Regions from separate parts of the Homo sapiens genome. Here region 1 is linked to region 2. Evidence: fine-mapped expression QTL. A gene starts in region 2. The other region holds a variant in brackets. All regions are shown on one strand. Distances are between the middles of the regions.

Evidence for each region. PIP is the estimated chance that this variant, and not a neighbour inherited with it, causes the effect.
Region 1: its variant is the best candidate, but not a certain one, in a credible set for the expression of CYREN in whole blood (INTERVAL, PIP 0.88).

Annotation. Positions count from the first base shown.
Region 1 is chr7:135,136,212-135,141,594 of GRCh38, reverse strand. It overlaps a transcript of CYREN not described here. Among named protein-coding and RNA genes, the nearest start is that of TMEM140, 9.2 kb to the left of the region's middle. The variant A/G (reference allele first, on the strand shown) is at 2,459.
Region 2 is chr7:135,167,992-135,173,374 of GRCh38, reverse strand. CYREN (cell cycle regulator of NHEJ) reads left to right here and starts at 2,668. Exons shown (of 4, transcript NM_024033.4): 1 at 2,668-2,723; 2 at 4,315-4,589. The coding sequence starts at 4,453. RefSeq lists enhancers at 1,928-2,147, 4,228-4,357 and a silencer at 2,528-3,137.

The DNA of each region.
Region 1 (5,383 bases), 32 kb after region 2:
GCTAGAAGAAGAAAATAAATAAGCACAATCAGAGCTGAACTGAATGAAACTGAGACACAAAAAAACATACGAAAGATCAACAAAACCAAAAGTTGGTTTTTTGAAAGAATAAATAGAATTGATAGACCACTAGCTAGACTAATGAAGAAACAGAGAAGATCCAAATAAACACAATCAGAAATAACAAAGGGGACATTACCACTGACCCCACAAAAGTATAAGAAACCCTCAGAGACAATTATGAATGACTGTATGCATACAAACTAGAAAACCTAGAAGAAATGGATAAATTCCTAGAAACATACCACCTCCCAAGATTGAACCAGGAAGAAATTGAAATCCTGAACATACTATAACAAGTTCTGAAATTGAATCAGTAATAAAAACCTACCAACCAGAAAAGGCCCTGGACCATACAGATTCATGGCTGAATTCTACCAGACATACAAAGAAAAACAGGTAGCAAACCTACTGAAACTATCCCAAAAAATCAAGGAGTGGGGACTCCTCTCTAACTCAGTCTATAAGGTCAGCATCAGCCTGATACCAAAACCTGGCAGAGGCACAATGAAAAAAAGAAAACTTCAGGTCAATATCCTTGATGAACATAGAGGAAAAAATCCTCAACAAAATACTAGCAAACCGAATCCGGCAGCACATCAAAAAGCTAATCCACCATGTTCAAGGTGGATGGAAGGTTGGTTCAACATATGCAAATCAATAAATGTGATTCATCACATAAACAGAACTATAAACAATCTTTCCTGCATCTATTGATCATCTTAATAGATGCAGAAAAGGCTTTTGATAAAATTCAGCATCCCTTCATGTTAAAAACTCTCAACAAACTAGGGATCAAGGCAACATACCTCAAAATAATAAGAGCCACCTATGATAAACCTACAGCCAACAGCATACTAAATGGGCAAAAGCTGGAAGCATTCCCTTTGAAAATGGGCACAAAACAAGGATGTCCACTTGCACCACTGCTACTCAACATAGTATTGGGAGTCCTAGCCAGAGCAACTAGGCAAGAGAAAGAAATAAAAGGCGTCCAAATAAAAAGAGATGAAGTCAAACTATCTCTCTGCAGATTATATGACTCTATACCTAGAAAACCCCATAGTCTCTGCCCAAAGGCTCCTAGATCTGCTAAGCAACTTCAGCAAAGTTTCAGGATACAAAATCAATGTACAAAAATCAATAGCATTCTTATACACCAATAATGTCCAAGCTGAGAACCAAATCAGGAATGCAATCCCATTCATAATAACCACAAGTAGATAAAAATACCTACGAATACAACTAACCAGGGACGTGAAAGATGTCTACAATGAGAATTACAAAGCACTGCTGAAAAAAATAAGAAATGACACAAATAAATGGAAAAACATTCCATGCTCATGGATAGGAAGAATCGATATTGTTAAAATGGACTTACTGCCCAAAACAATGTACAGATTCAATGTATTCTTTATCAAACTACAATATTTTTTACAGAATTAGAAAAAAAAAACTATTCTAAAATTCATGTGGATCCAAAAAAGAGCCTGAATTGCCAAAGCAATCCTAAGCAAAAAGAACAAAGCTGGAAGCATCACACTGCTTGACTTCAAACTATACTACAAGGCTATGTAACCAAAACAACATGGTACTGGTACAAAAACAGACTAATGAAACAGGTTAAAGAACCCATATATAATGTTGTACCCTACAACCATCTGATCTTTGACAAAGTCAACAATAACAAGCAATGGGGAAAGAGCACCCTATTCAATAAATGGTGCTGGAATAACTGGCTAGTCATATGCAGAAAATTGAAATTGGACCCCTTCCTTTCACCATATACAAAAATCAACTCAAGATGGATTAAAGACTTAAATGTAAAACCTAAAACTATAAAAAGCATAGAAGAAAACCTGGAAAATACCATTTTGGACATAGGCCCTGGCAAATATTTCACGTTAAAGACTACAAAAGCAATTGCAACAAAAACAAAAATTACAAGTGGGACCTAATTAAACTAAAGAGCTTCTGCACAGCAGAAGAAACTTTGAGCACAGTAAACAGCCTATAGAAGGGGAGAAAATATTTGTAAACTATGCATCTAAGAAAGGTCAAATATTAAGAATCTATAAAAAACGTAACAAGCAAAAAACAACCTCATTAAAAAAAAAAGGGCAAAGGACACGAATAGACACTTCTCAAGAGAAGACATACACATGGCCAACAAGCATATGAAAAAATTCTCAACATCACTAATGATTAGATAAATGCAAATCAAAATCACAATGAGATACCATCTCACAACAGTCAGAATGGCTATTGTTAAAGTAAAAAAAAACTAGTGAGGTTGCAGAGGAAAGGGAATGCTTACACACTGTTGGCAGGAATGTACATTAGTTCAGTCACTTTGGAAAGTGGTTTGGGGATTTATCAAAGAACTTAAAACACAACT[A/G]TCATCTGACCCAGCAATCCCATTATGCAGTATATATCCAAAGGAATATAAATTGTTCTACCATAAAGACACATGCATGTGTATGTTCACTGTAGCACTATTCACAGTAGCAAAGACATAGAATTAACCTAGATGACCATCAATGGTGGACTGAATAAAGAAAATGTGGTACACATATACCATAGAATACTATGCAGCCATATAAAAGAATGAAATAGTGTCCTTTACAGCAACATGGGTGAAGCTGGAGGTCATTATCCTAAGCAAATTAATGCAGGAACAGAAAACCAAATGCCACAAGTTCTCACTTATAAGTGGGAACTAAACATTAGGTACACATGGACACAATGAAGGGAACAATAGACACTAGGGCCTACTTGAGGGTGAAGGGTGGGAGGAGGGTGAGGATCGAAAATCTACCTATTGTGTATTATGCTTATTACATGAATGATGAAATAATCTGTACACCAAATGCCCACAACATGCAATTTACCCATGTAACAAACCTTTATTATTTTGTCTTCCACTTGTTTTCTACCTCCTTCTATTTTAATTGAATATTTTGTATGATTTGATTTTTTTCCTATTTTAGTATATCAATTCTACCTCTTTTTTACCCTTGAATTTACAGGATACATTTACAATGAATCCAATCCTTTCTCAAATAACCCTATACCACTTGCTTCTTTGGTAGTACAAGTATTTTGTAACAGGGTATTCCCAATTCCTCCCTCCGATTCCTTACAACATTGCTGCTATTCATTTCACTTATCAATAAGCTATAATTTCTGAATACACTGTTATTGTTTTGAACAAACTATTATCTGTTAGGTAATTAAGAAAAATAAAAGATTTTATTTTACCTTCATTTATTCCTTTTCTATTGCTTTCCCTTTGTTTACGTAGGCCAGAATTTCTGACCTGTATAATTTTCATCCTTTCTAAAGAATTTCTTTTAACATTAAAAAAAAGAGCAGCTCTAGAGATGACAAATTCCCACAATTTTTGTTTGTCTGAAAAAGTCCATTTCTCTTTCACTTTTGGAGGACAATTTCACTGGATACAGAACTGTAGTCAGCGGTTGTTATGGTCTGATGTTGCATCCCCCAAATTTCATATGTTGCAATCCTAACCCCTAGTGTGATCGTATTAGAAGACAGGACCTTTGGGTGGTAATTAGGTCATGAGGGTGAAGCCCTCATGAATGAGATTAGTGATCATAAGAAGAGACGTGGGATGATCTCTCCCTACCATGCGAGGATACAACAAGAAGGCCACCTGCAAACCAAGATGACTGCCCTCACTGGACACTGGATCTGTTGACATCTTGATCTTGGACTTCCCAGCCTCAGAACTGAGATAAATTTCTATTGTTTCATTAAGCAGCCTAGTTTATGGTATTTTGTTACAGCAGCCTGAGCTGAGACAGTGGTTCTTTAAACCCTTTAAATGTTTCACTCCACTCTCTTCTTTCTTGCATGGTTTCTGAAGAGATGTCTGATGTAATTCTTATCCCTGCTTATCTATACATAAGGTGTTTTTTTCAAGATTTTTTCTTGGTCTTTGATTTTTTTGGTATTTATCATTCCTGGTATTCTGTGAGCTTTCTGGATCTGTGGTTTGGTGTCGTTCATTTTGAGAAATTCTCCGTCATTACTGCTTCAATATTTCTTGTGTTCCTTTTTTTCCTTTACTTCCAGTAGTCCCATTACACGTTACATACCTTTTAAAATTGTCCTGCAGTTTTTGGATATTCTGAATTTTTCATTCTTTTTTGCTCTGCATTTAAGTTTTGCTAGTTTCTATTGACATTGTTTTAAGCATACTGACTCTTTCCTCAGTTGTGTCTTACCTGTTGGGTAGTCCATCATCATTCATTCTGTTACAGTGTTTTTGATTTCTAGCATTTTTTTTTTGTTTCTTAGTTCCCATCTCTCTGCTTATATTACCCATCTGTTCTTGCATTGTCCAATTTTCCCATTAGAACTGTCAGCATATTCATCGTAGTTGTTTTAAATTTCTATGGAAATATATGGAAGGTTTGCCAGAGAAGGCAGCAGTTGAGTTGAATCTTAAAGAAGTAGGGGCTGCCAGGTGGAGGAGATGCTGGGCTGAGAGAATAAATAGCTTTTATGAGAGAGTGGCATGCTCAGAAAACTGAAAGTATTGTAGCATAGTGAGGAAGTGGACTGCCAATCCTCTTACTTTGGGTAAAGCATCTTATATTTGTATCAAATACAAGGAGTGCAATTATGGACCAAGGTAAAATTGTTTAGGTAATATCTGTGCATCCCTAAATCTTCCAGGAAACTGGTTTATCACCTTTTTTGGTCATCCACAAAGACAATACATTCCAGAGTTTACAATTTCAAACTCTTAGGCAGTCGAAGATTCAAATGACATTTCACTGAATTAAAAATATTTTCCCAGAGTTTAGGCTTTTGTCCTGATCTTTGTGGAGAAGGGCCAATGGAATTTTGAGAACTCTTACTCCATCCTGAAGTCAGCTACAATAAATGCTATGATCCGGAACATTAACCTCTGGCTTTCCCAAGCCCGAGCACCTACCTGGCAGAGGGCATCCCAAAAGCAAGTAGACTTCTGCTCTTGCCCAAGATAATCACTAAGGATGAGAATTTTATACCAAAAGTTGGGGTACTCTTTGAGAACCAGGATACTTGCCTTCAAAGCACCATCTAATGTATTTAGAAGATAGCTATTTCCCACCAGACATTAAAGATTCCTGAGGAAATCTATGGTCATGGTCCTTTAAAACATAATAGTTACTCTTTTAACAGTGCAGTGGGCTCTCCTTGGAAACTCTTTAGCTACTAGAAATACTGTTGAGAGTAGACCACTCAACCCCAGATCTTCATAGTTCCACCCAGCTGTAATTAGGCTGTGGCCTGTATTTTTAATGTACCT
Region 2 (5,383 bases):
CACGTTTATGCCCCTTTATAATTTTTTTTTTTACCAAAGGTATATTTTACTTTTCTTATACATCTTGCACATGAACTGGTTTTTTTTTTTTAAATAGTACTCAGGAGGCCTCATTACTTTTAAATTATACAATATTTTTTGCATAAAAATTTTTTTTTATAATTTTTTTCTCACGACTTTCCCAGACAATTTTTTAACATGTCTCAATTTTTTGACTGATTAACAAACTTTTTTTTCTTTAAACAACCAGTTAATTTATTTCAGGACAAGAATTTACCATATAACTTTTTTTTAATATAAATTCTGCCTCCCCCCTTTTCTTTCCTTTTTAAAAAAGCGAACTTTCTTTATGTCTTTGGACTAGACTGTCTAAGGCCACAAGATTAGAAGTTACCAAAATACATGTTACACTGTTAACTTTTAGCAAACTTCACTTTTGTTGAAAACCTTGTAAGTTTGAGATTTCAATTATCCTTTGCTATTAATAAGAACTTGTTTAGTCTAAACTCTTAGAATTGGTACAGATGGCCTCTTTTTCTCTTTTCTGGTCGTTCCTTGGCTCTGCCAGCCGCTTATGCTGCTGTTCTCTTAACTACTGTGGTGGGGGAAAGGGGGTCTAAAACCAGCTGTAACTGTCTATGTACAGAAACCGGTCTGGGTGCTTTGGCTTACAGGTTACCTTGTGCCATACCTTTGAAACAAGGGACCTGTCCAGGCTTCCTTCTGGTGGCCAACCTACCTCTAATGCTAGCCAGTCTATTTCACACAAAGTTCTAAGTTTTCCTGGTGTCATACTAACACCGTAATCTCCTTTAAATTCTCTCTTGAAAAAAAATTTTTTTAACATAGGTCCCAGTGGGGTGGGCTTACTTTGCACCTGACCCATGTTTTTTTTTTTTTTTTTCCAGACAAAATACCACGCTCACACCACACATACCACAAGACAAAGAACAGGTAAAGAGGGCACACACACTTTTACCGTTTATACCAAACCAAAATCACGAAATTCAAAATCCGAGTACCAAAAAATTCAAGCCAAGTCAAAACCAAAACCAAAGTATCCAGCAATTCAAGTCAAGTCAAAACCAGAACAAGAGTGCCCATGCAGGCATGCTGTGGGTGATCAGGCCACGTTTCCACTCAGATGGAGTGGGGCAAGTTCCAAAGACTAGTCTTACCAAGTCAAGCCAAGTCAAAACCAGAACAAAAGTGCCAATACAGGCACACCGTGGGTGATCAGGCCACGCTTCCACTCACGTGGAGTGGGGCAAGTTCCAAAGACTAGTCTTACCAAGTCAAGCCAAGTCAAAACCAGAACAAAGATGTCAATACAGGCACACCGTGGGTGATCAGGCCATGCTTCCACTCACATGGAGTGGGGCAAGTTCCAAAAACTAGTCTTGACAAGCTTCAGATGTCTGGACTTCAAGTGCCAGTTCCTTCCCGGTGTTCAGCCAGTGTTAATCCTTCTCGGGAGCCTGCTATGCGCTGCTCTGGCAAGGCATTCCACCGGGGCCATTTCCTACCCGGGAGCGCTCTTTGGATTGCGTCAGTCAGGCTGGCCGGAGTCCTCTGCAGGGACGCTCCACAGGGCTTGTCAGTCACCTCGCTTCCTGGTCAGGGAACCAAGGACTGTAGCAGGACAAGCCACAGACAAAACCTCTCAGACACGGAGCTGTAGAAGAAAGGGCTTTATTCAGCTGGGAGCATTGGCAAGCTACTGCCTTAAAATCCGAGCTCCCCGAGTGCACAATTTCTGTCGCTTTTAAGAGCTCACAACACTAAAATTTCACATGAAAGGGTCGTGATTGATTTGAGCAAGCAAGGGGTACGTGACAGGGGCTGCATGCACCGATGGTCAGGGAGAAACAGAACAGGGCAGGGAGTTTCACAATGTTCTTCTATAGAATGTCTGGAATCTATGAATAACATCGGTTTCTAAGTCATGAGTTGATTTTTAACTACTAGGTTTAGGCCAGGCAGGCCCAGGTCCAGTTTTGGGCCTGGCGCTGGGCTGCCTGTCTTTGATTTCACTTCCTTTTTTTTTTAAAAAAAAAAAAAAAAACAGGTACTGAGTATAAAACAATATGAGAGGGTCTCTCTCTTCCCTCGCTTTAACTTTCGGAGGGCTGAAATTCTTTCTAGCCTTGGTTAATACAGCAATTCATTCCATTCTAGCTATTGTTATTTCTCTTACTATAATTTTACTATTAGTACTTACGCTATTCTATTATTTTCTTAATTTTCCACTTAATTAGGATAACAAACCGAGGCCGGGCTCCCATCCTCCTCAAGCACACGAGGGGGGCCTGGCCCAGCAGGGAGCTTCGCCTGGTTTCTGAGGGAATTCCCGGCGGGCCTTTCCAAAACATGCCCGTTCCCTTCCGCTAACTTCAGGGGCCAAGAATTGAACTTTCACCCTCCTCAAGCCGGTGGCGCTGCCTCGCTGGCGTTCCCAGCGCGCAGCCAACCGGATGCCAGCCGGCGGCATTACCACTGCCAGCATGGGGCGCCCGCGGACCTCCGACTGAGGCAGCTGCCGGGAGCCGGAAGTGTCCCGGGCGCCGGGACTGCGAGGGGGCCGGGAGTTCCCCAAGACCGGAAGTGTCCCGAGGCCGGGAGCCCGCGGGACCCCGGAGCGCGCGGGGCCGGAAGAGGCGGGCGGCCAGTGGAGGTCCGCAGAGTTTGGGCGCCAGGCGAGACGGCAGGGCTTAAAGTTCCGGGTGAGGCGTGGGTCCCACAACCGCTTGGAATTTGCCTCCCGGCTCCGCTCTGGAAGCTAAGAAGGGGCACGAGAGCCGGAGACGGGAACCTGAGAGCAGGGAAGCCAGTAGCCGGCCGGAGGAGCGCGCGGCCGCTCCAGTCGGAAGGAGCCGTTGCAGCCCTGCCCGGCGTGTGGCGGGGTCAGCGAGGCCCCTGCGGTGCTTCGCCCGCGCCTTCCGCTCCGCACTCACCCGCCCTCTGGGCCTCCCACAGGTCGGCGCCGCCAGCGGCGGGTACCGGCCCGCAGAGGGAGGGCGGGCTGTGAACTGGCAGCACATCGCGTTCCCGCGGGGCCCCCATTCTGCCCAGGCAGGGAGCGGCTGGGATGGGACTGAGGTCGGTCCGCGAGCGCGGTGCCCCAGAGACCCGGCTTCTGGAAGTTGCCGCGGCCTGCTCTTGGGGCCCAGAAGTAGGGCGGGGAGGCGCGGGGTCTGGAGTCTGCAGGACCTGGCTGCGAATCCAACCAGCTGATTTCAAACTTTTCTGTGATCTTCTGCAAGTTAACTAAGTCTCAGTTCCTCGTTTGCGAAATGTACTTAATAGGCACCCCAGGGTGAACTAAATTTGTCCGCACAGACTGCAGCATTGCGCTTGGGAGGCGCCTTAGGGGGTAGGAGTCACTAATATCACTGAGTTTTGACAGAAATGAAGGTGCATTGGCAAAGGTGTGCCCCATGGCCGGGCAGGTTAGGAGGAGGGCCTGGTAATATTTTTTCTTAAATTGTAAACAGCCATCTGGATGAGCAATGCATTATCAAATTATGATTCAGAGAGGACTATCGCTGACTACTCTTTTTTTTGGGCAAACCTCCGCTTCAGGAGCTTCTGGCTTGATTCCTAAGTGGAAGGTAGAGACCTAGGCCCTCTGAGTCACAACTCCATCTCTCTGGGTGAGGACTGAGCTCCAGGACTGCTGAGTGGAGGCAGAACAATTGGGATAGGGAAAAGAGAGGCCAAACTAGATCAGAGGCTGGCGTGGGCTTCAGAATCTACAGACTGGCACAGTTAATGCCTCCGGGCCCCTATTGCTGCTTCAAGTTTGACCAATCAGAAGTATCTTTAGCTTAAGGGCGGCGTGTTGGCCAATGAGACTTTATTGTGAAATAAAATGCCCTCAGTTTCATTTAACTGAGCCACCATAGAAGAGTAGAGAAATCGAGTTGGCCAGATGAGGGAGAGGCCATTAAGAGGTATTTTAGGGATTGAATGGGCTGGGCACCCAGAGGACAGTGGCATTTGGGGTGGTAATGAGAAGGAACATTAGGGGCCTCCGCCTCCTTCCGTTCCTCCTGTGCTGAGTCAGTCAGCACAGAGGCTGCAGGAGGTATCTCTGGTTGGCTTTGGCTGCCTGTAGGGGGCACCAGCTTTGGGGAGGTCAGAGGGCTCTCTCCTGAGCTGCTGTCCTGCCCACAATCACACCTGCCTGATGCCTGTGAATGGCCGTCTGAGTCTCTTGGGCCTTGGTCACTTCTGGCCTGCCCTGCACCGACCAGTAACTGTGCCTGATGACTGGAGGTATGGGAATTCACCGGACTTTATTGTTCTTTGTAGGAATCAAAGATCAACTCCCACTGAGGACAAATGGACCTGTAATTCCGGGTGTGACGAGAGAACGAGATTTACCTTCCTGAATTAAAAAACAGGTCATTAAGCTTGGGCCCTGACTCTTCTTTGTGAGAAGGTACAGAGATGGAAACCTTACAATCCGAGACTAAAACGAGGGTCCTTCCCTCATGGCTGACAGCCCAGGTGGCTACAAAGAATGTGGCACCAATGAAGGCCCCCAAGAGGATGAGAATGGCAGCAGTGCCAGTGGCAGCAGCAAGGTGCGACAGCTCTGGTCAGAAGACTCCTGCGAATCTGGCAAGTGGAGCAGGGGCCTCCATGACCTGGGCCAGGTCTTCCAGCCTAGGCAGAACAGCAAGATGGGCGGGTGTTTCAGTCTGATCATCTCTTGAGCTTTTAGAAGGTGGAGGGGCTGTGGGCGGGAGGCAAAGCGGGTTAACCCTCGAGGACAGGCACCCACTTCTGCCTCTGCACTGGTGAGTGCCCTGCCCTCAGCACACACAGAGTGGGTTCTCCATGTCAGCCAGTCTCTGATGCCAGTTGTCCAGAATGCCAGTCTCTTCCTTTACAACAAACATGGTAACATCAGATGGGCAAGATCAGTGGAAGGGTCTGTTCTGAGTGGTGCCTGCCCCTGTGGACAGACCTTTAGGGATGGACAGATGAGCAGCAGCTGCAGGGCCAGCAAGAGCTAAGGAGCTGGGGAGTGAGTTAGTTGAATGACGGTAATTGCCGGGGGGGGGCGGGGGGGGGGTGGTGAGTCTCCAGGCTGCACTGTGAAGTGGGCGGGGCCCCAGCACTCGGTGTTTCCCTCTCTGGCTCCTCCTCCTCTAAGGTTTCCTGACTGACAGCCTTCCCTTGTGACTGCTGCCGTCTTTCCCTAAGTCTGGTCCTGCTTTCAGGTTCCTCTCAGTACAGCCTCAGCCCGAGGTTCCCTTCCTCTTGCATCCATGTGTGTGTTTCAGAGGCGGCCATCCTTCCCTACTTCCAGATCCTTGTAGGGCAGTTGGTGGAGGGTGGGAGGCACCCCGGTGTTGCCTCCATGAAGCCCTGT